4 linked regions of the Homo sapiens genome follow. The protein of the gene in region 3 purifies or fractionates together with the protein of the main gene of each other region. This does not show direct contact. Each region holds a gene or a part of one and is shown on either strand. Other genes may lie near its edges.

Region 1 (8,009 bases), on a different chromosome or scaffold from region 3:
ACTTTCGTTCATTGCTTCAGGAAGAATTTCTTTTTCTGTTTTAGTTCTAATGTAAGAGATTGTTAACAGTGAGAGTCCCGGAGTAACATCTTTATACTTAAGAAAATGTATTTGGAATCGTAATGTACTCATGCTCATGCCTTTACATGTTCCAGGTCTACAGGTCCAACTGCTGCCACTGGCAGTAATCGAAGACTTCAGCAGACACAAAATCAAGTAGATGAGGTATTGCTCTGAAATGTTGGAAATATGAATTTTAAACAAATATGAGTACTCTGGAAATCTGTTTAGAAAAAGTATCATCAAAGTGTGAATGTAAAGCAAATTCTGACTGTATCATAATTGTAACGAAACTTTGCTCCCTGCTGTGCTGGAAGATCTAATCTAAGCAAAAGTCAGACTTTCTAGGTTTCACGCTTGTTTTCCTGTGATAGAAACCTGCTCATAACATTTAGCTCAGGAGAAATAAAAAATCATATGCCTAAAACATGAACATCACTCCCTGAGTGCATTCCCCAAGAAGCACTTTATAAAATCGGATAATACAATGTTAAGGATTAGGTCTTTAGATTGCTCAAGCCAAGACCAGTTCTTCTGATCAGATTTTTTTATCAAAATGCTTTGTCTTCTTACTAATTGTCCAGCCTGAGCAAGCCTCTCTGTAGAATTCATCTCTAATGGTTGTCCATTGACACACACAAAGTAGATACTGTCAAACTCCATTAGCTCAGCAAATCTCTGTTTGTAGAATTCTTGAGCTAGAGGACCTCCATCTTTTGTTCTGCGCCGTATGTGGAGAACCACAGCAGAAGATTGAGAAATTCAGACTAGTGTTTCCACATTCCTAAAAGCCGTCACTGTCCGACAAATATATTTCGGTCTTTCTGCATTTAGCTGCCCTGAAAAAACAGTTAAAGTTATGTCAGATACTGTTGTTAAATAATATAGTAATGTTTTGATCTGATGGTTTTGTTCATGAACTTATACAATTTTAGATTTTCACAGTAAGAAACCCATTGTAATTCTGTCCTGCCTGGAAATTCTGTTTACTTACAAAATCAAATTGGATTTTTTTTTTTAGCCAAAGGAATTTTAAGGAGAGTTGTTTTTTTATTGAGGCAAAATTACCATAACATACAACTAAACATTTTAAACTGTATATAATTGAGTGTTATTTAGTATATTGATAATATTTTGCAACCATTACCTCTTTCCATTTTCAGAACTTTTTCATCACCCCAGAACACCTCATGCCCATTTAGTAATCATTCACTATTTCCCCTTCCTCCCATTCTCTGGTTACCTCTAATCAGCTCTCTCTTTCTGTGGATTTGCCTGTTCTGGGTATGTCATATAAAAGGAATCATACAATGTGTGGCCTTTTGCATCTGCCTTCTTTCACTTAGCACAAAGTTTTTTGCATTCATTCAAGTTGTAACGTGTTGTACCGTGTTCCTTTTTACGGTTGAGTAATATTCCATTGTATGTGTATACACAATTTGTTGAGCCATCCATTTGTTAATGAGTCTTCGAGTTGTTTCCACCTTTCAGCAATTATGAATAATGCTGTTATAAATATTCACAGGAAAGATTTTGTTTAGACATAGGCTTTCATTTCTCTTGAATGTATACCTAGGAGTAGCATTGCTAGGTCATAGTAGCTGTATGTTTAATTTTACGAGGAACTGCCAAATTGTTTTCCACAATAGCTGCACCATTTTATTTTCCCACCAGCAATGTCCAAGAGTTCCTGTTTCTCCACATCCTTGCCAACACTTGTTTTCCATTTTGATTATAACCATCCTACTGAGCTCTTTGGGTTTTCATTTGCGTTTCTCTAATGATTAGTGATGTTAAGCATCTTTTCATGTGCTTATTGGCCATTTGTATGTCTTTGAAGAAATGTCTGTTCAGGCTTTGCCCATTTTTTAATTGGGTTGTTTGAGTTGTGAGAGTTTTTTATGTATTCTGGATATTAAATCTTTCTTTATCAGACATGTGATTTGCAAATACTTTCTCCCATTCTGTGGCTTGTCTTTTACATTTTTTTTATTTTTTTTATTTTTATTTATTTTTTTTGAGACGGAGTTTTGCTCTGTTGCCGAGGCTGGAGTGCAGTGGTGCAATCTCAGCTCACTGCAGCCTCCAAGCCCCAGGTTCAAGTGATTCTCCTGCCTCAGCCCCCAGAGTAGCTGGGATTACAGGCGCCCGCCACCTTGCCCGGCTAATTTTTTGTATTTTTAGTAGAGACAGTGGTTCACCATTTTGGTCAGGCTGGTCTCAAACTCCTGATCTCAGGTGATCCACCTGCCTGGGCCTCCCAAAGTGCTGGGAATATAGGCATGAGCCACCGCACCTGGCCTGATAATGTTCTTTGATGCACAAAAGTTTTTAATTTTTATGAAGTCCAATGTATCTGTTTTTCCTTTTGTTGTTCTTGATTTTGGTATATAAGAATCCACAGTCAAATCCAAAGTAATGAAGATTTACCCTTATGTTTTCTTCTAAGAGTTTTATGGCTTTAGCTCTTACACTTAGATTATTGATCCATTTTGAGTTACTTTTTGTATATAGGGTGAGGTGGGGATTCAACTTCATTCTTTTGCATGTTGGCTCTTCAATTGGCCCAGCACTGTTTATTGAAAAGACTGTTGGATGGCCTTCGCACTCTTGTCAAAAATCAATTGGCCATAGATGCTTAGGTTGACTTCTAGACTCTCAGTTCTATTCCATCAGTCTATATGTTTGTCCTTATGCCAGTATCACACTGTTTTGATTACTGTAGCTTTGTAGTAAGTTTTGAAATTGGGAAGTGACTTTGGGGAGTACTGCCCTCTTAGCAATATTAAGTCTTCCAGTGTGTGAACATAGGATGTTTTCCCATTTAATGATGTCTCTTAACAATTTCTCTTAGCAATGTTTTCTAGTTTCATTGTCCAAGTCGTTCACCTTTTGGTTAAATTTATTCCTAGGTATTTTATTCTGTTAGATGCTATTGTAAACACAATTGTTTCCTTAATTTCCTTTTCAGATTATTTGTTGCTGGTGTATAGAAACACAACTGATTTCTATGTGTTGTTGTTGTACCCTGCAACTTTGCTGAATTTGTTAGCTCTAGCAGTTTGTTGTGGATTCTTTGGTATTTTTTATATAGAGAGAATCATCTGCAAATACAGATAGGTTTATTCTTCTTTTCCAATTTGGATGCCTTTTCTTTCTCTTGACTAATTGCTCTGTTCAGAACTTCCAGTACAGTATTGAGTGGCAGTGTGAAAGTGAGCATCCTTGCCTCGTTCCTGATCTTAGGGGGGAAGTCTTTCACCATGGAGCATGATATTAGTTGTGGATTTTCCCATAAATGCCCTTTATCATATTAAGGAAATTCCCTTCTATCCTTAATATGCTGATTGTTTTGATCATGAAAGAGTGAGCCCATTTTTTCTAAAGTGAAAGTTTGGCTCAAAGTAATAAAGTGCTGACCTGAAAGAACAATGTGCCTGTAGATTGTCTTTGAAGTCTCTGTGCCTCCATTTTTTTTGAGACGGAGTCTCACTCTGTCACCCAGGTTGAAGTGCAATGACGCAGTCTCACCTCATTGCAACCTCCTCCTCCTGGGTTCAAGCGAGTCTCCTGCCTCAGCCTCCTGAGTAGTTGGGATTACAAGCGCCCAGCACCCCTCCCGGCTGATTTTCTTATGTTTTTAGTACTGAGACAGGGTTTCCCCATGTTGGCCAGGTTGGTCTCGAACTCCTGACCACAGGTGATCCACCCACCTCGGCCTCCCAAAGTGCTAGGATTACAGGCGTGAGCCACCGCACCTGGCCCTGTTCCTCCATTCTTTGTGCATTACTTGCTGTGATCACACTCATCTAGGTGGTGGACATAATGCGAGTTAACGTGGACAAGGTTCTGGAAAGAGACCAGAAGCTCTCTGAGTTAGACGACCGTGCAGACGCACTGCAGGCAGGCGCTTCTCAATTTGAAACGAGCGCAGCCAAGTTGAAGAGGAAATATTGGTGGAAGAATTGCAAGGTAATTATCTTTTAACTGACCTTTACATTTAACCCCCCTTCTCCATTCTCAGAGAATTAACAGGCTACAGATAATGGACTTTCACGACTCTGGGAGGTGGGTTTGACTTCCTCCACATGGAAATGTGGGTCCACTGTGAATCCGAAACACTGACTGCATACCCTTTCCTAGCCCCACACTAGGAATCCTCTATGTGCTGTGGCTGATCTTCAGAAGATGCAGGTAGAACAGGAATATCCAAAATCACTCACAGTCATCAGCCCCTCCCAACCCTCTACCCCAGCAGGGCCCCAAACAGATAGGAGAGGGCTGGAATTGGTCAGTTTTCTCGTAGTTCTGTGAATGGTTCCAAGGTCAAGGGAAAGAAATGCTAGAAAGCCACAGTGTGCCCAACAGAAGAGTAGAAAGCAGCTCTCCCAGGAGCACGAGCCAAAGCAGATTTTATACAGTTAGCGTGCTGCAATCAGATCCAGATGTATCCTGTCCTCTGCCTTGTTTACAAGTGACACTTTGAGACACAGGGCAAGCTGAGCAGCCTTTCCATATGTGGAAAACTTGTATACACAAACAAATGCCTAGCTAGAGGCCACACATCATTTGAACATCTTTTAAAAGCAGATAAGTTACCTTCAGGCCCTAATTGAGAACATTTAATTTAGGCTTTAGAAATTATTAATTACTCCAGACTGTATGCACCTGAATTTCCCTTTCAGTGACTAGATGAATATTATATAATACTCTTCAACAAGCACATTATGTCTGCATTTGAAATGTGATATGGACATATGTTTTGTTACAGATGTGGGCAATCGGGATTACTGTTCTGGTTATCTTCATCATCATCATCATCGGTGAGTTACCCTTTTCTAAACTGATTGGAAAAGTCTTCTCCATGTGTTCACAGACCATTGATTTTGTGTACAAGAACTCAGATTAAAATTTCCCTCCGAAATGTTAGTTTTGGCTAGGTGCGGTGACTCATGCCTGTAATCCCAAAGCTTTGGGAGGCCAGGAGTTTGAGACCAGCCTGGGCAACATAGCGTCTCTACAAACAATTGTTAATAATTAACCAGGCATGGTAGTGCACACCTGTAAGTCCCAGCTACTCAGGAGGCTGAGACAGGAGGATTGCTTGAGCCCAGGAATTCAAGGCTGCAGTGAGCCATGATCATGCCACTGCCCTCTAGTCTGGGTGACAGAGTGAGACCTTTTCTCAAAAAAAAAAAAGAAAGGTTCATTTATTCCAAGGTTTTCAGTTTTCTTTAATAAATGTTTTAAGTACTTGAGTTTTGTATAAGTCTGAGATTTGATACAAACATTAATCCTTTGAAGTTAGAGAAAATCTATTCATTTCCACTTCTTTTCTCTGAATATATTTTTTTCACATATTTCCTTTTATGTAATGTAGTGGTTAAAAGCATGGAGTGCCTGTGATCCATCCTGGCTCCACCACCATCCAGCTGTATGGCCGTGGACAAGCAATTTAATATCTCTGGGTTTCTGTTTCCTCATTTGTAAAATGGGGATAATAATAGTCCCTGTCTTGTTTGTTTGTTTGTTTGTTAAAGGACAGATCTGGTAAATATATAAAAATTGGCCGGGCTTGGTGGCGCACGCCTGTAATCCCAGCACTTTGGGAGGCTGAGGCGGGCAGATCACGAGGTCAGGAGATCAAGACCATCCTGGCTAACACGGTGAAACCCCGTCTCTACTAAAAATACAAAAAATTAGCCGGGTGTGGTCGCGGGCGCCTGTAGTCCCAGCTACTGGGGAGGCTGAGGCAGGAGAATGGCATGAACCCGGGAGGCGGAGCTTGCAGTGAGCCAAGATCATGCCACTGCACTCCAGCCTAGGTGACAGAGCAAGTCTCCGTCTCAAAAAAATAAATAAATAAAATAAATAAAAATTGCTTAGGTTGGTGCCTGGCATATAATAATAAAAATAATAGCTATATAAATAATATATATGTATACACAAACACACACACAACTATTATTATATAATATTCAAACAACTCACTGCCATCGGTAGCCCAGTATATGAGAACCGAAACATGACTTCTTTCATTGATAGATGGATGTTAGTGGATGTTTCCTTTTAGCAGGAAGGTACAGTTACTTGGATCCTTTTGACTCTAGTCTCCTTCCTCTAGCCCTCTATAGAATGGAGAGAAGCCAGTAGTAGGAAATCAGCCCAGTCTAATTTCTGATCACATTTAGACTGCAGCATTGGATGTTGGCTTGGGATTCACACTGAGAGACTAACCTGCTGTTTCCCCTGCCTTTTTGCATCTCTCCTCCTTCTTAGTGTGGGTTGTCTCTTCATGAAGAACCAGCGGAACTCAAAACTGCTGTTCAAGAAACCTCTTCAAGACTTTTGACTTAGAACCTGCTATATTATCAAGCTTACCTACTGTTATCTCTAAAATTTTTTTTGTGTTAATGTAAAGTTGAATTTCTAGGAAACGTGCCTTTGTTTTTTAATATGCACTCCAAATTAGAAGGCCGGCCCCGTCCACATTTTGCACAGTGCCTTTACAGATTTACGTATGGGCTGATGAAGAGGCCTTCTTAAGTTCCAGAGTGCTATAATCTAGATGTAATGTTGTCACTAATTAATTGCCATTACTCCCAGTTAGTTACCCTTGTCATTTGGCATTATTTTCAGAACCACATTTTAAACCTTTGGGTAATCAGATTTCCAACTTATGCCTTCCAGAAAAAAACACTACTGCCTAACACAAATCTGTGATAACAACAGGCTGTGCCTTATTTTGATAATTTTCTGATTCCCTAGAAGAGAACCCTCTACTTTTTGTAAGCACTACTGACTCTCGCTGTATTTAAGATGCTGGTGAAGAGCTTTTGCTCTTGCATTAGATTTGAAGATGTTTACATTGTTGTTATTGTTATGTATCACTTGCTAAAAATATTGTTTTAATCAGAGATAACCTCTTTAAAAAAATTTTTAAAGAACTATGGCTATGACCAAAGCTTCTATTTTGCCAAAAAGTTAAATACCGATAAAATGGCCTTAAGTGTATTCCTGACAGTTAAATTCAGAAACGTGCCAAATGGAACTCAAGGTGCCCCTTCAGAATTAAAATCATTACCTTGTGTGTGAACCTTCTACATCTTCATAGGCCTTTCTTCCTTTTGAAAGGCTGTAGACAGTGTGGCTCCCCTTCTGATTCAGTATTTTGCATGGGGGTTAGAGAAGGTTTGAGGTAGACTCTGACCGTCTCATAAAAGAGTTCTACCCAGCAGTTGGCAGATTATCAGCTGTGGACTCCAGCATGTTTCTGATAATTATGCAAGCAACAATTCTGTAGCCTCAAGTAAGACCACCTGTGAACTTGATCATTATCTGGCCCAAATATGAAGATAAACTATAACTTTGGAGTTTGTTTCCTATTTGTATTCACATTCTGCTTCCTAAATCAGTTTTCTAAATTATGCCTGCAATTAGGCATTGGTCAGGGGTGAATGGCTCTTTTCACAGAGAGTAGCCAACCAGAGACCTTTGCTTTGATATCATCAACTGCAGAGAATGCTGTTGATGGGAATGCTGGAAGCAGAAACTTTGTCATCGGAAAAACTTTTCTTGTATGCATGAGACTCAACATCAGGATCCACAGCTTAAAGATGGGAATTCAGGTATGAAAGAAAACAGGCAAGGAGGCACTGAGGGAGAAAGACACAGACTTTATCGCTCTGTGGCTCATTGTTACTGGAATATTCTAAAACTCTTGTTCACATGCTATTATGACTTATAAAGCAGCAACAGCTGAGGCGCACCAGGACACAGCTTCCATTTCTTTAACGTCTGTTCCCTTAACATCGCTGAAATGATTTACTGTTGAAGAGATGCCTTGCGGTGTGGCCAGCTGTGAGGAGAAAGCAGCTGGCAGTGTTAGGACATTAGTCCACCTTCAGCGCAGGGTCTCTGGCCGGGTCTGACTCAGAAACCTTGGTACT
Region 2 (8,305 bases), on a different chromosome or scaffold from region 3:
TTAGGCCTTTGGCTGGTGGTGTTCTCACCCATGAGGCACCATTCCATCACAATCACCACCATCAACAAAGAGTATGTGTTCAACATTTACACTATATATTCAAGGTGTAGGCTGGAAATACAGAGGAAAAAAAAAAAAAAAACAGTCCCAAACCTCAGAGCTCATAGTCTAATAATGAAAGAGAGACAGAGGAAGAGGTCCAATAATTAGGGGTGACAAAGGAAGCACTTCCTGGAGGCAAGGGAGATGCTTACACTGACTCCAGAAAGCTGCGTGGGTGAATCAGGCAGTGTGGGTGCATGTAGAGTAAGAGCATCCAGTACAGCAATCACAGTCACTGTATTGAGTCTGGCACTGCTGGAGTACTAAGGCTAAGGGAGAGCAGAGGCTAGATCAGTGAGGTCAGGAAGTGTTGGCACTTTATTCTGCAGGCCAGCAGCAGCCACTGAATAATATTAAGTAGGGTACACCTGTCTAGGACTCTAGAAAAGCTTACACTGTGCTGTCCAACACGGAAGCCACATACAACTACTGACTGGAAATGTGGCTAGTGTGACAGAAATTAAATTTTAATTAATGTAAACTTGGTAACTGATAGCAATTCAGTTATCAAAAACCTTTTATGTATGTTTGGAACAATTAAAGAGTATGTAGGCCGGGCGCGGTGGCTCACGCCTGTAATCACAGCACTTTGGGAGGCCGAGACAGGTGGATCACAAGGTCAGGAGATCGAGACCATCCTGGCTAACATGGTGAAACCCCGTCTCTACTAAAAAATACAAAAAATTAGCCGGGCGTGGTGGCGGGTGCCCTGCCCATAGTCCTAAAAATACAAAAATTAGCCAGGTGAGGTGGTACACACCTATAGTCCCAGCTACTCAGGAGGCTGAGGTGCAAGAATCGCTTGAACCTGGGAGGCAGAGGTTGCAGTGAGCCGTGATTGCACCACTGCACTCCAGTCTGGGCAACAGAACAAGACTCTGTCTCAAAAAAAAAAAATGTATTTAATGAACTTTAAATACAGATCAATTATTTCTGATGAAAATTTAATGTCCAAATTTAAATGTGCAGTAAGTGTAAAATATGTATCAGATTTAGAAGACTTAGTACAAAAGTAAAATATCTCATCAATAATCTTTAATCACATGTTGAATATTTTGAATGTATTAGAGATTACATTAGAATTAATTTCACCTGTTCCTTTATATTTTACTGCGGCTACTAGAAAATGTAAAATGACATACATGGCTGGCATTATACTTCTATTGGACAGCAATGATCCAATAGATCCCAGGACAGCTGAAAGAGGAAATGAGACCAGAAGCAGGAAGAACAATTAAAAAGACTCTGATAAGCATCCAGGTAAGAGAGACAGGCCTGATTATCTAAATTCTGCCCATCTTCAAAACCTAATTCAAGATACACTACTGCCTCCAAAAGCTCTCCTAATCCTAACAATTCCCAAGGAGTTACCTTTCTCTGAACTCCTGAGGCACTTATCTGTAGCATTCACTTCAACACTCATTCATTTGCCACCTGTCATTTCTATTTAATTTTGGGGTAATTTGTTTCTCAGATTAGACCAGAAGCTCCTAGGCTAAGGGCCATAATTTAGGCACCTTTAATTTTTGCATGCTGTGTAATGCATTTTTGATACTTTTAATAAACACAGGTACATGACTCCCCAAAAATCTGGATACACCTTCATGGGTGACTTTACCTTTCCACAGCAGAAGGAACTGAGAATCTCTTTTCCTTCAAGAACCTTAAAGATAGGAGCTAAAATGATGTAAAAATCAATCAAAACTCCCTCCAAGCCAATGTTCCGATAAAGTAGTGATATTTAATCAGTGAGCAAGCATTAGTAGACTGTATAGGATACCATCAAGAAAAAAAAATGCCAAGACAGAAGAATTTAGGCTTTTGACAAATTCCATAAAAAGTCAAACAAAAAATTTCTGATCATCTCTGATCTCTACCGCCAGAGATAACCTTTGCCAACCTAAGCATTAAGAACTTTCAATCAAGGAAAAAACATCTATTTTAAAAATTAACCCCTAAATCAATCCTTCTAATAAATATCACATTTTCTAGGTAGGGATACACATATTACCAGTAAATTTACAACTCAGCATTTTCCCATCTAAATTAGAGTAAGGTGAAGAAAAAAAACTTTCCAGGGAAATATTAAGAAGTAGTATAAATGTATTTTACTGCATAATCGATAAAGTATTTCACCTAAAATACCATTTAAATTTTCTACAACACTTGACTATACAACGGCCAGCTTGCACCACTACAGAAATAGGAAGCTAGCAGCAACTAGTAAAAAGCAAGGGACATTCTGTGGTGATCAGTACTGACCTGGGAACTTTGCAGTTTTCAGATTTTTCATGTTTGACATTTAAAACAGAAAACTGACAAGTTTCTAATAAGAAACTAAAAGTTACATCAGAATTGATCTTCTTGCATGTGTTTAATGGCTACGAAGTGGATATTACAAAGTGCAGTTGAAGACTCTATCTCCAAAGAAACAATCGAGCAATCAAAGATGAGCTAGGATAGCTTGTAAGGGAACAGAAGGCAGTCCTTTCTATTCTGAAAGGCAGAAGAAATAGGAGAAACCTGTCAAACAACCTGGATGAAATCAAGGAGTTAACAAGCAACACTCATTTCCTTTAGCACTGTGAGAAAATTCCGGTTGCTAATAGAAAGCTGAGGAAAGTTTGGTTTGGCTTGTTTCATTTTGTTTTCCTTCCAAATCATCACTGAGTATGAACGACTGCTTTCCTCTCCTCACATTACTCAGTAAAAACTCCCCCATTGAATTGTCTTCCGGTGCCCTGCTCCCCAGCCTCCCAGAACGGCCCCCGCCCCCGCCTCCCTCCCAGCAAACGTGCTCAGACGCCTCTGGGCTTGTTGTGGTCTCGCCAGTCTGCGGACAAGCGCTCCAAACTCAATGGACAATGGAGCTCACCCCCGTCAACGCGAACTACAAAGCTCAGGAGGGCCATTTCCCTTTTCCTGCCCAGATGCTGTTTTCGCTCCTTCGAAGCAAGATCCCATGCTCGACTAGACGGCCAGTGTGCGCCAGGACCCGCGTGTCTCCTTCCCCACCTGCAGAGCTGCTGAGCCCCTCGGCCCCCAAATAAATTGTACCGCAGCACACAGGCCAAAAAGGGCCCCCCACCACCAGGGGCTTGGCTGGGGACAGTGGCTTCACGGTCCAGGTAGGGATGGAGGGAACGTCTCTTGACGCTTGGTCATGGCCCTCAAGACTAAGCCGTCTCCACTGTTCCCCCTCCCCAGCTCCAACTTGCCTCCCCTCCCCCCACTGCGAGAAGACCTAGGAGGTGCGGGCAGGCAGCACCGCCACCTCTTCCTCCGGTGGAGCGCTCGGCCGACACTCACCCTTTCACCACAAAGAAGGGGTCCTCCATGGACATGGCGTCCCGGCCCCGGCCGCCTTCACCTCCTCCGCGCACAGGGCGCCCGTGCCTCCCGGTCTCCCTCCGCCCACCCCGCCTGTTCCCGCAGCTGCCCGCGCCTTAGTCTGGGTGAAGCCGAGCAGCGGGCACGCGCACAGGCCAGGTGCACAGGACGGCCGCTGGTCCAGCACTCGCTCAGCACCACTGGCCGAATCCCGGACTCGGGCGCCGGCCCCCTCGGCAGCCTCCAGTCCCGGCTCCTCCCGAAGCGTCGGAGGGCCTGACCCCACCCCCGGGACCCTCGGCCGCGGCCAATCACGAACGCCGCCTGAAACACGACTTCCGCACCCCGCTCACGTGACCAGGGCATATATCTCTCTCTCTCTCTCTCTCTCCTCTCTCTCCTCTCTCTCCTCTCTCTCCTCTCTCTCCTCTCTCTCCTCTCTCTCCTCTCTCTCTCTCTCTCTCTCTCTCTCTCTCTCTCTCTCTCCCCCCCCCCCCAGTGGGCGGGGCTTACGCCTGCGTCCCTCGGCCCTGGAGGCGGAGCCCTCGGGGCGGTGGAGGTGGGCGGGCTTCTACAGCCCTCTCCTCAAGCTTGAGGGTGAGGAGTGGCTTGTTCCCTCAGAACTAGGCAGTCGGCTTTTCAGGATAAGCTGTAGTTGTACCTGATTTGCAAAATCCTCTTACCTTTCCTCTACTTTTAATACTTAATTTTGACAGTATGTAATTTATAAATCTATCTGGTCCTCGACTTAAAATGAAGCATAGTATCTGATTATAATGTTACACAGATCCTTTAAGTAGGTCTTGCTTTGTGTTGGACAGTGTGCTAAAGGTTGTGTATGCATCATCTCAGTATCCTTTGGGGGAAAGTATTATTCCCCCCTCCCCCTTTTTGGGGGGCAGGGTCTCTCTCTGTCACCCTGGCTGGAGTGTAGTGGCACAATCACAGCTCACTGCACCCTTGACCTCCTGGGCTCAAGCGATCCTCCGGCCTCAGCCTCCCGAGTAGCTGGGACTACAGGTGAGCGCCACCACGCCCGGCTAATTTTTAAATTTTTTATAGAGATGGGGCTCTCAGTATATTTCCTAGGCTGGCCTTGAACACCTGAGCTCACATGATCCTCCTGCCTCTGCCTCCCAAAGTGGTGGGATTATGGGCGTGAGCCACCACACCATCCATTTTTCTCATTTTGTAGATAAGAAAATAAGTTCAGAGAGGCTTGAAGACTTCCTGTAGTCACACAGCCTGGACAGGGCAGAACTGCAGATTCTGTGCACTTTCCACCAGATGGGGTGTACTTTCTGTTGCTGTACATTCTGCAAATAACCATGTAAAGTAATTTTTCATACAGCATATGGTGCTTCCCAGGAGAGCACACCTTCGAGGAATAAAGAAGGGGCCAGGTATGACAACTTCCTCTCACTGTGGTTCAAGAGCTATTCGAGAAAACATTTTGCCCAGAACCATTAACCAACTCATATGCTAGATATGCTATGAAATTTGTGGATGGGGATTGTGGACTTTGATTGCTGAAAATCATTGAGCACTTACTGTGTGTGTGTGTCAGGCAGGATGTTAAGTGTTATCTCAGTTGCTCTTACAATGTGATAATTACTGCTATCATGCCCATTTTATAAATGAGAAATCTGAGACTCGGAGGTTAAGTGACTTGCCCAAGGTCACCAGTCTGGAGCTGGCACAGTCCTTGGAGCAACACAAACCCCGTTTAAACCTTGGCTCTATCATTCAGTTCCTCATCTATAAAACATAAATAATAATAGCTAGTTCATGGGTTGTTGTGATGGTTAAATAAAAATGTGTGTAAACCTCAAGATCCCAAAGGACTAAGTTACTGAAGTCAGGAAAACCAGTAAGGACGCTGCTAAAGTCATGTGGCCTGAAGGGATGAGGTCCAGACCAGGATGACAGCGATTGAGAACAGAGAAGGAGTGAATCTGACAGATGTTTCAAAAGGAAAACAAGACTAAACACCTAGACATGATGAGGGGCTGAATGGGTTTCAGGAGGGGAGAGAAGAGAGGGGTGAAAGCCAAAATCCCTGGAGGAGCGAATGATGGAAGGCAGATGTGGGGAAAGGAAGCAGTGTCCAATACTAGTGATTGCTAATGTTTATTGGGAGAGAACTGTTTAATTTACTTAGCTGGGGAGGTGAAAACGTGTCATCGTTCATTCATTCAACAAGCACATGTAAATTGAGGGGTAGGTGAGCATGGTGTTGAAGACCATCCTTGGAGTCTGATTGCTTGAGTTCTGCTGCTTCCTGACTGTTGCATCTCAGGCAAGCCGCTTCATCTCTCACTATCCTCAACTGTGAAATAGACACCGTAATAACAGCTTCCTTATAGAGTGTCATGAGGTGATGTGTGAAAAGTGCTTAAAACAGTGCCTGACACATGTTGTGCTCCTACTGTGTGCTAAGCACTGAGACACAGGCATGAACAAGGCTTGGTTCTTGCCTTCAAGGAACTGTCAGACTGGTGGGAGAGACAGACTGGTGGGAGAGACACACAGTGAGAGAAGGGCACAGGTTGCCATAGAAACACAGCGACAAGATACCAGTATATTTGTGTGTTTTCGGGGCTGGGGCAGGGGGTTCCTAAGCAGTGACTAGAAGCAGCCAGGAGAAGGGGGCCATGTTGCTGGAGTAGAAGGAAAAGGATGGGGGCAGCAGGAGCTAAGCCTGGAGGTGGACAGGGTCAGATTATCAGGGCCCTTGTTTGTAATGTTCAGAATAGTGGACGCTTCCTATGGACAGTTCCCCATGGGGACTGAGGGAATTGACAGGGTCAGATTGGCATTTGAGACAGATGCTTCAGTGGCTAGGAGGTTATGGTCCAGAGGAGGGATGAGGGTATCCTGAGCTGGGCTTGTGACAACTAAGGTGGAGAAGAGTGATGCATTTGAGACATACTTTAGAGGCAAAGTTAGTATACTTGGTGACTGATTGGTTCAGGGTATGGGGGAATTGATGAAAGAAGAGGGAGGAAGGCTTCTGGGGTTGTAAATGGGTAGTGTTGGTTCCAACCATCAAGAAAGAGAACACAAGAGGAGGATTTGATTTAGGGTGAATGTAAATTAGCTGTTAGCATGTCATTTATCCCCACCAAACAGTAAACTCCTGGAGGGACAGGATACTATGTTAATGTTATTATCACCTAAGTGCCTGACACGGCCTCTTATTATCTGTTCCATGAATTTCTTAATTGGACCACATATGACAGGCCAGAGTTTTATAAGTAGTAATAGAAGATAGAGGACAGAGGCTTGGGTTCCCATAATTAGGGGATTAGAAAAAGCACCAACAATGGAGATAGTGGAGTGTCAAGATATAAAATGTGTGTATGTGTGTGTGTGTGTGTAGGTGTTCCTTTCTTTAATGTGTCACCCTCCTTTACCCTCTCTCAAACTAGACCTTGGCCTCCACTGCCCACAAGGAAAGGGAAGCTATGGCTAAAATGCAAGGAGAAACAAAGGAGGTTCTTTCTTTCTTTCTTTTTTTTTTTTTTCATTTAATAGGACCCACGTCCTGGCATAAACAATAGGTTGGGAAGAATACTCAGCAAAAACCCATCTCTTCCCACACCCCCACCCCTACCCCACCCCCAACCCAAAAGAATAATTTAAATTTCTCAGGGAATAAAAAATCAAAACAGTGGTTGTCTTGGGGGACAGAGTTTGACTGGGAAGGGAAACTTTCTTGGGTACTAGAAATGCTCTGTATCTTGACGGAGTGTGTGTTACATGAGAGTATCATTTGTCAGAATTCCTCAAACCGAAACTCTTAATTGGACTTAACTTCTGTTCATTTTTCTGGGGGAGGTTGACATGCCAACTCTGAGCTTTCTGTAGAGTTCTGAGTGGGCAGCCAGGAGAACCTCTGGTTCCTGAGTGAGTCTCCAAAGTTAGGAGAGTGAATGAGGAAGGGAGCACACTGGGTCCTGCAATGCATCTTCTGCAGAAATAAGGAGATGGCAACACAGAGAATAAGGCACAGGCAGCCAAATGAGCTGAGGATCAGAAAGGAGCCAACCATATCACTGGGGATGCCAGGATAGACCTGAGAGGGATTGCAGTGGGTAGCCACCCCCTGCCCCTGGAAGCTGCGGGAATGCCATGACACCCCTACAAGGGGATCTCCCCTACTCTGAAATAATGACATTCAGCCTGCTCCTTCACTAGCCTGTTATAAGGAACAACTGGATCATATATGGGAATAATTTTTTATTTTTTAAATTTTTTATTTTTTAAATTTATGAGGCCGGACATGGTGGCTCACACCTGTAATCCCAGCACTTTGGGAGGCCAAGGCGGGCAGATCACAAGGTCAAGAGATCGAGACCATCCTGGCCAACATGGTGAAACCCCATCTCTACTAAAAATACAAAAATTAGCTGGGCTTGGTGGTGCGTGCCTGTAGTCCCAGCTACTTGGGAGGCCGAGGCAGGAGAATCACTTGAACCCAGGAGGCAGGGGTTGCAGTGAGCCAAGATCACGCCACTGCCCTCCAGCCTGGCGACAGAGCGAGACTCCATCTCAAAAAAAAAAAAAAATTTAATTGTGGTAAAATACACATAACATAAAATTTACCATCTTAACCATATTTAAGTGTACAATTCAGTAGTGTTAAATATATTTGCCTTGTTGTGCAACCAATGTCCAGAACTCTTTTCATCTTGCAGAACTGAAACTCTATACCCATTAAACAACTCCCCATTCTCCCCCAACAATCTCTGGCAACCACCATTCTACTGTGTGTCTCTATGAATTTTACTACTCTGGGTACCTCACATAAGTGGAATCATACAGGATCTGTCTTTTTATGATTTGCTTCTTTCAGTTAGCATGATATCTT
Region 3 (8,009 bases):
ATCTAGTTAAATAAATAAAAGAGAAAGAAAAAACTCTATTGCTATTATTCTGTTGCTTTTACAGTATGTAGTATATTATGTTTACTGGAAGAAAAAATGGAAAAACAATGGAGTTTTTCTGCTACCTTATCCATACATTTGTACCAAGCTTTTGTGTAGATTTTTCCCTGTCTGGAGTAGGCAGGTGTTTTTATATTAAAGATCTGGAAGACTGAGGTGGGCAGATCACAAGTTCAGGAGTTCGAGACCAACCTGGCCAATATGGTGAAACCCCGTCTCTACTGAAAATAAAAAAATTAGCCAGGCGTGGTGGCGAGCTTCTGTAGTCCTAGCTACTCAGGAGCCTGAGGCAGGTGAATCTCTTGAACCCGGGTGGCGGAGGTTGCAGTGAGCCGAGATCACACCACTGCACTTCAGCCTGGGCGACTGAGCAAGACTCTGTCTTAAAAAAAAAAAAAAAATTCCTTGATAGGCTTACCCTATCAAAGCAGAATTTCTTTAGTTGCATTTCTTACAGTTTTTAGGTAGGTTGTTTTTGACAGCTGTTGAAAAATTATACTCTAGTATCTCAATTTATGTGATTTACTTTCCATAGCTAAAAATCCCCGCAGTCACCAGAGTTTTATTTGGTTTAGATCCAATACATAACCAGCTACGTGAGCTGTCTCCCCACAAGTTTATACCTACATCCTTGAATTTCAGAGAGCATTAGCTTCCGTTTAAAAAAAAGTTATAATGAATTATATAGTACATATTCCAGTAAATTAATATGCTGTTAGAAGACCAGCAGTCATAGTGATAATATTTTGTCTGTGGTATGTTGTGGATTTTACAGAGTATTTTTACATATTTTATCATTTAAACCTTACAGAATTAGAGTAAGAGAAATAGACCAAAAGAACTGTTTCCATTTTGTTCATGTCTCTTACGGGTTTAACGAGTTACCCAATGTCATTTAGAACTTAACTCTTAAATTTTATTTCAGTACTGTTACAGCTGTAAATTTCAAGTCACATATATCTAGTAAGCAATACTTCTAAACAACATTAACTATAGAGGGAAAACTGCAAAGAGGACGATATTAAAAGATAGGTAATAGGAATTCATATTTTTAGGAAGTACAATTTGAAGGACTTACAATTATCTCTAATTTATATTTTATTTTTCCACAGTGGGTAAGTGTCAGAATGGTAAAAATGCTCCAAATCTAAATAATAAACCACAATTCATTAAACTAAAGTAAAATGGAATAGAAGTACATAATTCATAAAAGTTCTAATATTTTGATAGAGTTAATAATGAAGATTCTGAATATATATCCGTAGTCACTAAGGATTTTTTTTTTTTTTTTTTTTTTTTGAGACAGGATCTCATGCTGTCACCCAGGCTGGAGTGCAGTGACATTATCACGGTTCACTGCAGCCTGGACCTCCTAGGCTCAATCGATTCTCCCACCTCAGCCTACTGTGTAGCTGGGAATACAGGCACATCCACCATGCCTGGCTAATTTTTGTATTTTTTGTAGAGATGGTGTTTTGCCATGTTGCCGGCACTGGTCTTCAATTCTGGGCTCAGACAGTCCACCCACCTCACCCTCCCAGAGTGCTGTGATTACAGGCATGAGCCACCATGTCCAGCCTAAGGTCTTCTTTTTAAAACTTTGACTATATTATGATTTCCAGAGATTTACAAAAATGCATTAAAGATAGGGTATTTGGTAAATAGAGATAGAAATAGATTTTAATTACCCTTTGTCAGTCAAATACAGATCCCTATTCTTAAGCATATTCTTATACAATATCTCATTATTTTAAAGGACCCCAAGTGTGACCAGACCATATTTAAAATGAGATGAAATATATAAGAGGTACTGATGTTGTGATTTGTAAAACATCACAATTAATATGAGCTTTTTTTTAGTGTCATGTTTTTAAGTTGGAAATCTTTTCAATTTATAAGATAGCTAGATAAAATATGGATATGTAGTCAGCACTCTGTATCCATAGATTATATATCCCCAGATTCAACCAACTGCAGGTCAAAAATATTCAAGAAAAAAAAAAAAACAACACAATAATAAAAAAAAAAACTGAACTATAAAATATAGCAACTATTTACATAGCATTTACATTATTGTATTGGGTATTATAAATAATCTAGAGATGATTTAAAGATATGGGAGGATATGCATAGGTTATATGCAAATGCTATACCTTTTTATATCAGGGACTTGAGCATCAGCGGATTTTGGTATCCACAGGGGTCCTGGAACCAATCTGCAGATACTGAGGGATGACTATAATTTACTTCTTTTATTTATTGTGTTCTTTCCCTTTACAAGGAAATGCCATTATTTTTTCCAGCGTAAACTTAAATAATAGTAAATTTGTACCAATATTGCCTCTTTCCTTTTTATTTTTATTTTTTGAGACAAGAGTTTTCCTCTGTTGCTCAGGCTGGAGTGCAGTGGTGCAATCTCAGCTCATTGCATCCTCCACCTCCCATGTTCAAGTGATTCTTCTGCCTCAGCCACCCAAGTAGCTGGGATCACAGGCATGCTCCACCACACCTACCTAATTTTTGTTATTTTTGGTAGAGATGGGGTTTCGCCATGTTGGCCAGGCACGTCTCAAATTCCTGGCCTCAAGTGATCCGCCTGCCTCGGCCTCTCAAAGTGTTGGGATGACAGGTGTGAGCCAGCATGCCTGGCCCCTCCCCCCCGCCTTTTTTTTAAGTATCTATAGCATATACATGTTCACATAGAGAAATAAGAGAGGCCAGATATAACTAGATCTGGGAACTGGGCAAAGTCTAAGGTAACAAATCTTTTCTTGCTTACCTGACCTTCCAGGTGTGAGATGCAGATAAAGGGCTTCCACATCCCCAGTATCTCAAACATAAAGGATCAGACATCTAACAGTCTCTCCTTCAGGTTCCCTCTGATTCAAGTCATCTGTGTTTCTAAATGGCCGTTGAATTGATTTCTCTAAGCTTGCCTACCCTGTGTGAGTGAAGAACCTGACATATAATATTTGCTCATTATTTATCAAAGAATAGGATATGAAATTTTTTTTGATAGAGAAAGTTGAGAGCCAGTTTATGAAAAGGCAATTTTTGTACAACTGTTTATCAGTGTTGATTCAAAAGGCAGAGTTGAAGCTTAAAGAAGTATATTAGTCCTTTGGCTGTAATGCGTGTTTTCTCACTTTAGGCAACAGAAGCAGCAGTATACTAACCAGCTTGCCAAAGAAACAGATAAGTACATTAAAGAGTTTGGATCTCTGCCCACCACCCCCAGTGAACAGGTATCAAGCTTTAAGACACATTGTTGATGTATTGAATGTGAAAAAAACCCAGTGCACTGTAGGATCTTTGAACTGTTACGCTAGAAAGGAAATTATGCTAGAAAGGAAATCAAAAATAATTCTGTTTGAGATTAGTTCACAGAACACAAAACTATATTTAATTGCTCAGGTAGTATCCTGTGGTTCAATAAAGCAAAAATTATTTCCATGCATTTGCCCTGACCCATAATTAAGTTAGTTCTCAGAAAATGCTTCCTGAGTAATTATTTCCTGGCCTTCCGGGGCTGACTGCGTGGAACATGCAGGCTCATTCAAGATGTGAGGTGTCCTGGGGGCACATATTTATTTCCCTGCTTATTTAATGGAAGTTATTACTTAGCTAAAAGTATAAGGCTTTATTTGCCTGAAAAAGAATTACTTTAAAATAGCCTCAAAATAATAAGCTAGTTTTTAGCAGCGTGAAAACCTGAGGTGAGAAATCCAGCATAATGGGTCTTTTGCCTCAAGTTAAATATGCACAGTATTTGACATACTATCAGAATGTTACTGAGAGTTAATCTGTAAGGCCCTGTAATTGGGGAGTAAGTGAAAACTTCAGGGTTAAATAAAGAGCCAACTACCGCAAATTCAGTTGAACTTCACAGCTAGATTCTAGTTGGCTTTTTCTTCTCTTTCCTCTAGCGTCAAAGGAAAATACAGAAGGATCGCTTAGTGGCAGAGTTCACAACATCACTGACAAACTTCCAGAAGGTCCAGAGGCAGGCTGCTGAGCGAGAGAAAGAGTTTGTTGCTCGAGTAAGAGCCAGTTCCAGAGTGTCTGTAAGTATTTTAAAAGACATTCTAGAAATGAACATGGTTACTTGCTAAGGGTCCCATAAAAGTCTATAGTAGCATAATTTTTTAAGTCATAAAGATCTGTGAATATCTTGGAAATCAGCTCTTGAATATTTATTTTTATGCTTTCCTGCTCCATTTTTAGAAAAGGATGATAATTTTGTATTACGGTGGTGATTTTTTGTGTCATAGTACAGAAGATTACAGAGTATATAAAAATATAGAGACATATTTTGTCAAAAAAGATTAGGGATCAAATCCTGAGTAGTATTCTCACATCGTCTTGGTACTGAGGCTTTCTGCTTGTGTACACGCTAGTGTAGAAAGCACTTTCCTCCTGGATTACACCAAGATGACGGAGATGAATGGCGCAAGTATGTTGTATCAATATTGAAAATGAACATGAGCCTGGAGAAAATAAATGAAAGGAAGCTTTACAATAGAATTTTGAATTAATCTAATTTTAAATTCCCTTAGAAACTATCATGAGTTATTTTCTTATTCATTAACATATGGATTCCAAGACTACATTAAGCTTTAACTAAATAATACTTATTTGATCCTTGAGAATATTTAGTGAATTCCTTTCTTGTCTACTTAGAATATAAAATTACTTATAATTATATTATTACTTGAAGCAGTTGACCTGAAAAATTAGAACAAGAACTTCTTTCTCTCTGTCTCTACACACACACACACATACACACAGACACGTACATAAATCAGTTTAGTTTATTATAAGGGAAAATATGAGTGTTTATTTTTTCTCATTTTTGCTTTTTTTGCCCCTTCTCATTCCATCCTGTTACTAAATTATTCAGGGCAGTTTTCCTGAGGACAGCTCAAAAGAAAGGAATCTTGTATCCTGGGAAAGGTAAGAAATACAAAACATTTTACAGATCAAAAGGTAATTTTTCAAAGTTTATACATTAAGGTCCCTGGAACAGAATTAAAGCTTTCAATATATTATATCATAAATATCCTAAGTTGTTTATATGTTGAAAACAGAGTAAATTTGAAAAAAATTTTAAGTAATTATAAAGTATTTATTACAAAATATATAAAGTTTTCCAAATAAATGTTTATGGACTTAATTATTAATATAGACATTCCCTTATATGAGGTTTAAATCAGCTGAGAAGAAATACCCAGTTGACAGATACAGCTTCCAATAATTAAGTAATAACTCTAAACTCACATTAGCTAAAATGATATAAGTGAAATGAAAAATGAATAAATTTTATTAATATATCTGTTATATTCTTAGAATTTTTTTGAGTAGTTCTGTGACTTTGGAGAATAAAATATCCTATTTAATGAATATATCTTAAATAGGAAATGAGTCCCATTGTTTTGAATACCAATCTTTGTTTTTTTCCACATTCATTTTTTTCTGTTAGCCAAACTCAACCTCAAGTGCAGGTGCAGGATGAAGAAATTACAGAGGATGACCTCCGTCTTATTCATGAGAGAGAATCTTCTATCAGGCAACTTGAAGTAAGGCTTACATTGTAGACTTGGGCTGCTGCTCTGGTCTTAGTGAGTTTGTTCTCAAGATGCTTAGGTAATGCTGGGAGAATGCATGAGACAGAAAAATTTTGTTTTCTTTTTGAGACAGTCTCCCTCTGTCACCCAGGCTGGAGTGCGGTGGTGGAATCTCGGCTCACTGCAACCTCCGCCTCCCAGCTTCAAGCGATTCTTGTGCCTCAGCTTGCTGAGTAGCTGGGATTACAGGCACGTGTCACCCCACCTGGCTAATTTTTTGTACTTTTAGCAGAGAAAGGGTTTCACCATGTTGGCCAGGCTGTTCTCAAACTCCTGGTCTCAAGTGATCTGCCTGCCTTGGCCTCCTAAAGTACTAGGATTATAGATGTGAGCCACCATGTCTGGCCCAGAGAAAGAAAATTAATGTATCAGTTTGGTAGCATTTGTAATGTATGAGTTGGAATAATTCCTTTTTTAAAAAAATAATATTGTCCTTACTGTTTGTGCTAGGACGAGGGATCATACTCCCTCCTACTGCAGCTTTTTAAAAATTATTATTGTTATATCAAGCCATCTATGGACCACCTTAGTATTGAGAAAATACCAGTGTAGAGATAAATGTCTGTCCAAGAGTCTGGATGTCTTCCCAGAGCACATGATACACATCATACCTGCATGAGTAAGACCTTTTATAAGGCCTTCAAAGAATTTTATTTCTCTTTACTATGTTTATGACATCAAAGAGATCTAAAGGATTTATTAAGTCATAGTTCTTATGGAACCTACTTAGTTCCTAGAAAGAAGGCTAATAATAGCTAACAATGGCTACAATTTATTGAAGACCTTCCATGTGCCAGGCACTTGTGGGATGAATTCTTTATGTTAATTATCTCATTTAGTCCTTATAAAAACTTTATGAAGCAGTTAATTGTGTCATTGAAGAAAAGTAAATTTATATTTAATCACCAAGTTTATAACTTCTTTATTCAGTAGTGACATTTCACTAATCCACTGCATGTTCAAATTATTAATGTGAGACTTTAAATTTACACCTAATGTTTTATTACTTTAAATTGTCAAATTGATGTGTAAATTTTACTAGAAATACATGCTAAGAATATTTTATACCCTTGTAAGTAGATACTGCTTGTGATAACAAAACTATCAGGTTGTATAAAATGAACTCAGCAATCCATGGCTCTTCTCTATTATAGATCCTTCATTTCCATTCATTTCCATCCTGCCTCGCTCACTTGGTATTTTTAATGCCACAAACTGATTTTAGAGAACTGGTGGCTATTGTTCAAATTCTTCTTAATTATTGTCAAATATTTTCCTGATATTTCCAAAGTTTATGTATTATATTTGTGTATTATAGATGCATGCTCACCCATGTGTGAGTAGTGGTTTGGGTTTTTAAAATTTTTCCTCTTTTATGGAATGGGGACTGAATTTCTGATTATAATAATATATGCGTTTTCTCTTAGGCTGATATTATGGATATTAATGAAATATTTAAAGATTTGGGAATGATGATTCATGAACAAGGAGATGTAATAGGTAAGACCTGCTGACTTAGATTTTGGAGGTGAGAGCAAGCTACATGCACTTTACCTGCTGTAACTTTCTCACAGAAGAGTAACCACTTTCTGTCCCTTTTTTGGTTTCCCTGGAACCAAAAGCATGGTCTATAAAACACAGTAAGCATCACCCTTGGCATTATCTAAAACAGATCTCATTTTTAACTCGTGCTGGTTGAAATAACCAGCTTCATTTATTTCAGAAGCCCAAATTTAATCAGGGCCTATTGCTGCCAAGACCATGGAAGGCACCATGAAACATTATTCCAGCTTATTTCCAGGGCCTCTGGTTTTAGTCTTACTCCAATTTATTTGTCATCATGCTAAGCACTTTTGGGGAAACTTGTGGTATATGTAACTGTGCATGACATCTTGTCTTTTAGGTATTAGGGAATAGGTAGACATTTGCCTAATCATTCATTTTAATAGCTTTTTGGTAGATGAATTTAGTAGTATTACATAGAAGTTAGGAATTCTTTTTAGAAGTGATTTTCTTTTCTAAAGTTGCTAAGAATCCCTTAAGTATTGAATGTAATAGCATTTCAATTAGGGTGTAGTTGTTAACATTCATCAGGATCCTGACCATCTTGAAGTCTGGAGCTATGTATTGGTATGTCTAAAGATGCTTTTAGTATATTTTCTGAATTTGGTCCAACTGAAATATTTGCACCTTTACTTCAGTGTAACTATTTTTTATCCATTCTTACCCTCCTCTGTATCCCCAGTAGATCACAGGGTAAAATTTCAAAAACCAATTTATTCATCATCCGAAATATGTTGAGTGGCTACTATGTCCAGACACAAA
Region 4 (8,009 bases), on a different chromosome or scaffold from region 3:
AGCAGTTCTGACCCTGTGGCTTTGCAGGGTTCAGGCCCAGAGGCTGCTCTGCTGGGCTGGCATTGAGTGCCTGAGGCTTTTCCAGGTTCATAGTGCAAGCTGTTTGTAGACCTGCCATTCTGGAGTCTGGAGAATGGTGGCCCTCTTCTCACAGCTCCACTAGGCAGTGCCCCAGTGGGGATTCTGGGGGGTGGGCGGTGTCCAATCCCACGTTTCCTTTCTGCAGTGCCCTAGCAGAGGTTCTCCATGAGGTCTCTTCCACTGCAGCAGACTTTGGCCTGGACATCCAGGCATTTCCGTACATCCTCTGAAATCTAGACAGAGGTTCCCAAACCTCAATTCTTGACTTCTGTGCACCTGCAGGCCCAGCTACCACGTGGAAGCTACCAAGGTTTGGGGCTTGCACCCTCTGAAGCAACAGCCCAAGCTGTACCTTGACCCCTTTTAGCCAGGAGCTGGAGCAGCTGGGACTCAGGGCCCCAAGTTCTGAGGCTGCCCACGAAACCATTTTTTCTTCCTAGGCCTCAGGTCTTGTGATGGGAGGGGCTGCCATGAAGATCTCTGATATGCCCTGGAGACATTTTTCCCATTGTTTTGGTGATTAACATTCAGCTCCTTGTTACTTAACGCAAATTTCTACAGCTGGCTTAAATTTCTTCTCTTTGCTTTATAAATTACTTGGTGGTCTCAGCTCAGTGATCCAGTGATCTGAGTGATCTCAGGAAAAGAAAGAAATATTAGCAAATAAGAGAAACACCTTACATTGCCATACTCCTTTGACAGGTCATGTGAAAGTAATTTAAGTGATCATATCACTTAGCCTGCAGCTTGAATATTTGTCTCAGGCTAGGTTTTACTTTAGGTGCTTGTAGTATGTGTTTATGCACTAGAAAGTTAGTGTTATCATAGTTCCAGCATAAGGATGTCTTACTGTGCCAAATAAACAGTGGAATTCCTATATGTATCTTGATATTTGTTTCTTGTACACTGAATGAACTTAGGTACAATACACACAAGCCCACTTAACTAAAGGTCACATCTTTTTTTTTTTTTTTGACAGAGTTTCACTCTTGTTGCCCAGGCTGGAGTACAATATCTTGATCTAGGGTCACCTCAATCTCCACCTCCCGGGTTCAAGCGATTCTCCTGCCTCAGCCTCCCGAGTAGCTGGGATTACAGGCAGGCGCCACCATACCTGGCTAATTTTATATTTTTAGTAGAGACGGACGGGGTTTCTCCATGTTAGTGAGGCTGGTCTCGAGCTCCCGACCTCAGGTGATCCGCTCGCCTCAGCCTCCCAAAGTGTTGGGATTACAGGCGTGAGCCACCGCGCCCGGTCTAAGGTCACATCTTTTCTAATCATTTAGAACACAACCTAGAACCAGAAAGAAAGTAAACAAAAACAGGCCTGTACTCATGGGACAGCTGTGGAGTCTTCACCTATGAGTCATACCACCATCATAATTTTTGCCATTTAGAGTACTGTTGTTATTTTACTTCATGTTTAATGGGTTTTTTAAAAAAACATTGCCCACTTCCAAAGTGATAATCTGTGAAATCATGGTTTTTATGTATTTTATAGCTTTTTTAGCATCCATTATAATAAATACATAACTATTAAATATATAACTCTTTCATATGTAACAGTTAAAATCATATTCTTGCTCAGCACTTTGGAAGATACTGCTTTGGGCCTAATCAGCTCATTTTTAAAATGAAGATTGAACTAAAGCTTATGGGCTTGAAAATTCTGTGATCTCTATGATGATGTTCATTATCATAACACAATTCTAGCAAAGTTTACTGGTTCCACCAGATGAAAGTAGATTAGGGCCGGGCGGTGGTTCATGCCTGTAATTCCAGCACTTTGAGAGTCTGAGGCAGGAGGATCGCTTGAGCCCAGGAGTTTGAGACCAGCCTGGGCAACATGCCAAGACTGTCTCTACAAAAATTTTTTAAAAAACTAGCTGGACCTGGTGCCCAGTGCCTGTGGTCCCAGCTACTCAGAAGGCTGAGGTGGAGGATCGCTTGAGCCTGGGAGGTCAAGGCTCCTGTAGATTAAAATAACAAAAAGGAAAAAGAGGATGTTTGCTCTTTGATATCAGCTGCCTTTTTTTTTCCCTGAATTCAGGCTTTCCCCCGCCCCCGCCCCAATTTGGTTCCTTTATCTGCAACACTCTGGACATCTGTTTTTGAGCTATGTTTGTACTCCACATTGTGTATATATTAGCATGTATAATATTATAATGTTGCTTATCTCCAAGAGTGCTGAACTTTTTATTCCATTACTATATTTTGTTTCCAGATCTGTAGGTTGACAGACGGGCAGATGACAAGGACTGCTCTTTTCTTTTCCCTTTTTTTTTTTTTTTTGAGACAGAGTATTACTCTTGTTGCCCAAGCTGGAGTGCAATGGTGTGATCTCGGCTCACCGCAACCTCTGCCTCCTGGGTTCAAGTGATTCTCCTGCCTCAGCCTCCTGAGTAGCTGGGATTACAGGCATGCGCCACCACGCCTGGCTAATTTTTTGTGTTTTTAGGAGAAACGAGGTTTCACCATGTTAGCCAGGCTGGTCTCAAACTCCTGACCTCAGATGATCTGCCTGCGTTGACCTCCCAAAGTGCTGGGATTACAGGCATGAGCCACCTCACCCGGCCAGGACTGCTCTTTTTCTTTGCTGTGATAGGTAGAAACTTGAAACAGAAGGATCCAGTGCCTCTAACAATTAGAGGAAGTGGATTATGGAGCCAGGAAACAAAATGTACTGTGTTTTTTTAAATAGTAAGAGTAGAAGAAGCCCATTTGTATTCATTTAGATTCACTGACATTTTGGTTTGGGTTTCAATTTAGGTTGTATTGCTACTAAAGTATTTAAATCACTGATTCCTATGTTTTTCCAGAATTCTCTCTTCTTGTTGCTTTCTGTAAGTTCTGTAACTTAGATGTAAAGTTTGTTTAAATTTATTTTGACAGTGTTTTGGAAATTGAAATTACTTTCGATGGCCTTTCAATACTTATAAAACTCAAGCCAGGTGTGGTGGTGTGTCTGTAGTCCCAGCTACCTGGGAGGCTGAAGTAGGAGCATCAGTTGAGGTCAGGAGTTCAAGACCAACCTAGGCAGCATAGCAAAATAAATTTCAAACTTCTTGGTATAGTATACAAAGCTCTTCACAATATGTGTTCTGTCTTGAAAGCCATCCCCTGCCCTCCATACATACACACACACATTATATTCCTGCCTCACCACTGAAGCCTTACATTGTGGCTTTTTCTTCCTTTTTGATAATTTAATTTAAAATCATAATTTTTTGGACTTGATCATACTTGGATTTTGACCCACACAAATGAGAATCAGGGTGTTTGTGTTTTTTTGTTTGTTTGTTTTTTAAGACAGTCTTGCTGTGTCACCAAGGCTGGGGTGCAATGGCATGATCATAGCTCGCTGCAGCCTCAAACTGCTGAGCTCAAGTGATCCCCCTGCTTCAGCCTCCTGAGTAGCTGGGACTACAGGTGCACGCCACCAGGCCTGGCTGATTTTTTTTTTGTTGTTTAATTTTGTGTAGAGATGGGGGACTTGCTTTACTACCCAGGCTGGTCTCAAACTCCTGGCTTTAAGCAATCCTTTTGCTTTGGCCTCCTAATGTGCTGAGATTGTAAGCATGAGCCATCATGCCTGGCCAAAATCACGAGAGATATTTCATAATTATTATGAAAAGTTATAATAGTTTTATTGAGCACTGTGTGCCAGGCACTGCTCTAAATACTGTGCTTGAATTAGCTCAATCCATGTAACAACACTTAAAGTAAGCATTATTCTCATTTAATGAGGAAACTGAAGCACAGAAAAGTTAACAGTAATCAGGATTTGAAACCATTATGCCTTCAGATATTGGGCACATAACTACTATACTATGTTGTCTTTTGTATAAGCAAGAATGCCACTCTTTTCTGTTGGGGGTATCCTTTCCAGGGACGTGAGTGCTTATATTCTCTCTTTTTTTTTTTTTTTTTTTGAGACGGAGTCTCGCTCTGTCGCCTAGGCTGGAGTGCAGTGGCGCGATCTTGGCTGACTGCAAGCTCTGCCTCCCAGGTTCACGCCATTCTCCTGCCTCAGCCTCCTGAGTAGCTGGGACTACAGGCGCCCACTACCACGCCCGGCTAATTTTCTGTTTTTTAGTAGAGACGGTTTCACCTTGTTAGCCAGGATGGTCTCGATCTCCTGACCTCGTGATCCGCCTGCCTCAGCCTCCCAAAGTGCTGGGATTACAGGCATGAGCCACTGCGCCCGGCAGAGTGCTTATATTCGCTGTCTGTAGCTTCTGACTCTTAATATCGGAATATTTGAAAAACTAACCAGAAAGCATCAAAGTGGCTGGGTGTGGTGTCTCACGCCTTCTGGCATTTTGGGAGTCCAAGACAGAAGGATTGCTTGAGGCCAGGAGTTCAAGACCAGCCTGGGCAACATAGTGAGCCACCCTATATCTACCTAAATAAATAAATAAATAAATAAAGCATCTAAGTGAACTTAATCAGAGCTAAACTATGTGGATGGTTTCGGTGAATATTTCATTCAGGCAGGGTGAATCCTTGCCAATTAATCTCACCCCGTACTTGGTATCTCCCTGGCAGATACCACACTTATGCCTGCCACATTGTCTCTTCCTGGGTAGATTGCCAGCTTCTGGCTCTTGAGCCCCGTTCTTATCTTTCACATAGAACGTCCCCTTTCTGTTCACATAACCATTCTCATTGATAGGGTTAATAAAATTGATTACAATCAAACCTACATCTACCTCCCCAGTATTACTCCTGGGTCACTTAGAGTAGAATTGTGGAAGTTCCTAATTTGACAGGGACTTGAAGACCAGGCGTTGGACATCAAGCAATTAAGTTACCATAGGTGCTTCTGTAAAACTGAAGTTTAATTTTTTTTGTAATTAGAGTCAGGGTCTTGCTATGTTGCCCAGGTTACATTTAAACTCCTGGGCTCAGGTGATCCTCCTGCCTCAGCTTCCTGAGTAGCTGGGACTATAGGCCTGAAAATGTAATTTTGGTTTTCTTTTTGGTTCCTGATTTTTAGTGGGACTTTCCCATTTGTTAATATGATTTCTGTCTTGAATCTTGTGCTTCAGTGTACTTTGAAACCAAGCTGATTTTTGTTTGTTTTGTTTTTTCGTGTTGTTTTTTAAGATGGAGTCTCGCTCTGTCGCTGAGGCTGGAGTGCAGCGGTGCGATCTCGGCTAACTGCAACCTCCGCCTCCCGGGTTCAAGTGATTCTCCTGCCTTAGCCTCCTGAGTAGCTGGGATTACAGGTGCCCGCCACCACGCCTGGCTAATTTTTTTTTTTTTTTTTTTGAGATGGTGTCTCACTCCGTTGCCCAGGCTGGAGTACAGTGGCACAATCTCGACTCACTGCAACCTCTGCCTCCTGGGTTCAAGTGATTTTCCTGCCTCAGCCTCCCAAGTAGCTAGGATTACAGGCACATGCCACCACGCCCAGCTAATTTTTGTATTTTTAGTAGAGACGGGGTTTTGCCGTGTTGGCCAGGCTGGTCTCGAACCCATGACCTCAAGTGATCTGCCCTCCTCAGCCTCCCAAAGTGCTAGGATTACAGGCGTGAGCCACCATACCCGGCCTTTGGTATTTTTTAGTAGAGACGGGGTTTTTCCATGTTGGCCAGTCTGGTCTCAAACTCCTGACCTCAGGTGATCCACCCACCTTGGCCTCCCAAAGTGCTGGGATTACAAATGTGAGCCACTGCGCCTGGCCTGAAACCAAGCTGTTTAGTAGATACGATTCTGTGATGTACTTAGTATATTTGCATTTGAGTTATAGACTTTGTATGGTAAAAAGAAAAGAGTTTTTAAAAAGAGAAAAAAATATGTATGTATATTTGCATAGTTTTGGGGCCTATATATAAAAATGGTTAAAGTTGTTTGTGTAGAAGGAGATAGAAAGGAAAGCCCAGAGAGGAAGTAAAAGGAGGAAGCCATCCTTAACATAAAGGAGACCCTTGCCAGGCAAAGTGGCTCATACATGTAATCCCAGCACTTTGGGAGGCTGAGCCAGGAGCATCACTTGAGGCCAGGAGTTTGAGACCAGCCTGGGCAACATAGTGAGACCCTGCCTCTACAAAAAAAAAAATAATAATATAATAAAAGGGCCAGGTGTAGTGGTGGGCACCTGTAATCCCAGCTACTCGGGAGACTGGGGAAGGAGAATCACTTGAACCCTGGGGCAGAGGTTGCAGTGACCTAAGATTGCACCACTGCACTCCAGCCTGGGCAACAGAGCGAGACTCCGTCTCAAATAAAATAAAGTAAAATAAAATAAAATAAAAAGTGAGACTCTGTCTCAAAAAAAAAGTTGTATATAGCCTATACTTTATATCATCAACTTTAATATTCAAATTTAGCCTTGCAGATGGAACTATTAATATTTAGTAGCTATTACTTTCAGCTACATTTACATAAATGTGACTCATATTCAACATTGTTACTTTCCTTTTGTTTTGCCTACTATTTATTTCCACTTCAGTAAAAATATTAATATAATGGCTAACATTGAACACCGGCCATGTGCAAGGCATTGTACTAAGTACTTTGTGTAGATCATCTCTTTTTAATCTTCACAAAAAAAACAAAACTATAAAATAGAATGTTATCCTTGTTTTACAAATACAGAAACCGAGTTTTAGTGGTGTTAGGTAATTAACTTGGGGTCACACAACAAATACATTGTGAGGCTGGAATTTATATGCTGGAATTCCCACTCACCCACTATGCTATCCTGCTATAAACAGAAGTTTCCTCTTGCTGCGGATGCATTGGTTACCATGGACGTAGACTTCTATCAAGCCAAAGAGAATGCTGAACTTAAAAGTACAGTAATAAACCCTTTGAGTGTAACTCATTGAGGAGCTTTATTGTGATTAATTTTCAGAGAAGGAATAAGGCAGGAAACTAATTTGGTAGAATATTTTAGCTGCAAAATCCTTGTTTACCAGTATAAAAAGAATTATCTTATAAAATCATTCTTTGCAAGACCCTGTGAAATTGATGGTGATTTTTTTTTTCTTTTTTTTTCAGACAGTCTTGCTCTGTTGCCCAGGCTGGAGTGCAGTGAGTCTTGGCTCACTGCAGCCTCTGCCTCCCAGGCTCAAGCCACAGACGTGCACTACTGCACTCGGCTAATTTTTGTGTTTTCTTTTTAGTAGAGCTGGGGTTTCACCGTATTGGGCAGTCTGGTCTTGAACTACTGGCCTCAAGTGATCCGCCCACCTCTGCCTCCCACAGTGCTGGGATTACAGGCATGAGCCACCACGCCTGGCCTGATGGTGATTTAAAGTGCTCTTTCTTCATTACTTCTTGAGTAGCTCACCAGTTTTACAAATGAAGCCACATGGATCTTCCAAGGCCTTATTTAAATTCCAGGGCCTTTTTTCTGTGTATTTCTTTCCAAGAAGCTCATTTACTTTTCCTTTCTTCTTTTCTTCTCTTTTCTTTTACTTCCTTTCTGCTTGCATTTTTTTTTTTTTTTTTTGAGACGGAGTCTTGCTGTTGCCCAGGCTGAAGTACAGTGGCATGATCTCGGCTCACTGCGACCTTTGCCTCTCGGGTTCAATCAACTCTCCTGTCTCAGCCTCCTGAGTAGCTGGGATTATAGGTGTGCATCACCACGCCTGGCTAATTTTTGTATTTTTAGTAGAGACGGGGTTTCACCATGTTGGCCAGGCTGGTCTTGAACTCCTGACCTTAGGTGATCTGCCCACCTTGGCCTTCCAGAGTGCTGGGATTACAGGCGTGAGCCACCGCACCTGGCCTCTTGCTTGCTTGTTTTCTTATCTCCTCCCTTCCTCCCTCCCTCCCTTCCATTTCTTTTCCTTCTTTCTTTTCTTTTCTTTTTTTTTCTTTCTTTTTTATTTTTTTTGAGACAGAGTCTTGCTCTTGTCACTCAGGCTGGAGTGTAGTGGCATGATCTCGACTAACTGCAACCACTCCCTCCCGGG

What was found.
Region 1: the proteins of STX7 (region 3) and VAMP3 purify together in Homo sapiens (affinity purification with mass spectrometry; 5 studies listed by BioGRID and IntAct, with this or other methods). This does not show direct contact.
Region 2: the proteins of STX7 (region 3) and STX6 purify together in Homo sapiens (affinity purification with mass spectrometry; 5 studies listed by BioGRID and IntAct, with this or other methods). This does not show direct contact.
Region 4: the proteins of STX7 (region 3) and SNAP23 purify together in Homo sapiens (affinity purification with mass spectrometry; 5 studies listed by BioGRID and IntAct, with this or other methods). This does not show direct contact.

What each region holds. Positions count from the first base shown.
Region 1 is NC_000001.11:7,773,287-7,781,295, forward strand, and holds part of VAMP3 (vesicle-associated membrane protein 3), read left to right. Parts: intron 1-155; coding exon 156-225; intron 226-3,873; coding exon 3,874-4,032; intron 4,033-4,831; coding exon 4,832-4,883; intron 4,884-6,339; coding exon 6,340-6,359; 3' UTR 6,360-8,009. UniProt on the Homo sapiens protein: SNARE involved in vesicular transport from the late endosomes to the trans-Golgi network.
Region 2 is NC_000001.11:181,019,228-181,027,532, forward strand, and holds the start of STX6 (syntaxin-6), read right to left. Parts: upstream 3,644-8,305; 5' UTR 3,447-3,643; coding exon 3,412-3,446; intron 1-3,411. UniProt on the Homo sapiens protein: SNARE promoting movement of transport vesicles to target membranes. Targets endosomes to the trans-Golgi network, and may therefore function in retrograde trafficking.
Region 3 is NC_000006.12:132,467,578-132,475,586, reverse strand, and holds part of STX7 (syntaxin-7), read left to right. Parts: intron 1-3,211; coding exon 3,212-3,305; intron 3,306-3,986; coding exon 3,987-4,124; intron 4,125-4,960; coding exon 4,961-5,013; intron 5,014-5,539; coding exon 5,540-5,636; intron 5,637-7,111; coding exon 7,112-7,184; intron 7,185-8,009. UniProt on the Homo sapiens protein: May be involved in protein trafficking from the plasma membrane to the early endosome (EE) as well as in homotypic fusion of endocytic organelles. Mediates the endocytic trafficking from early endosomes to late endosomes and lysosomes.
Region 4 is NC_000015.10:42,498,033-42,506,041, forward strand, and holds part of SNAP23 (synaptosomal-associated protein 23), read left to right. Parts: intron 1-8,009. UniProt on the Homo sapiens protein: Essential component of the high affinity receptor for the general membrane fusion machinery and an important regulator of transport vesicle docking and fusion.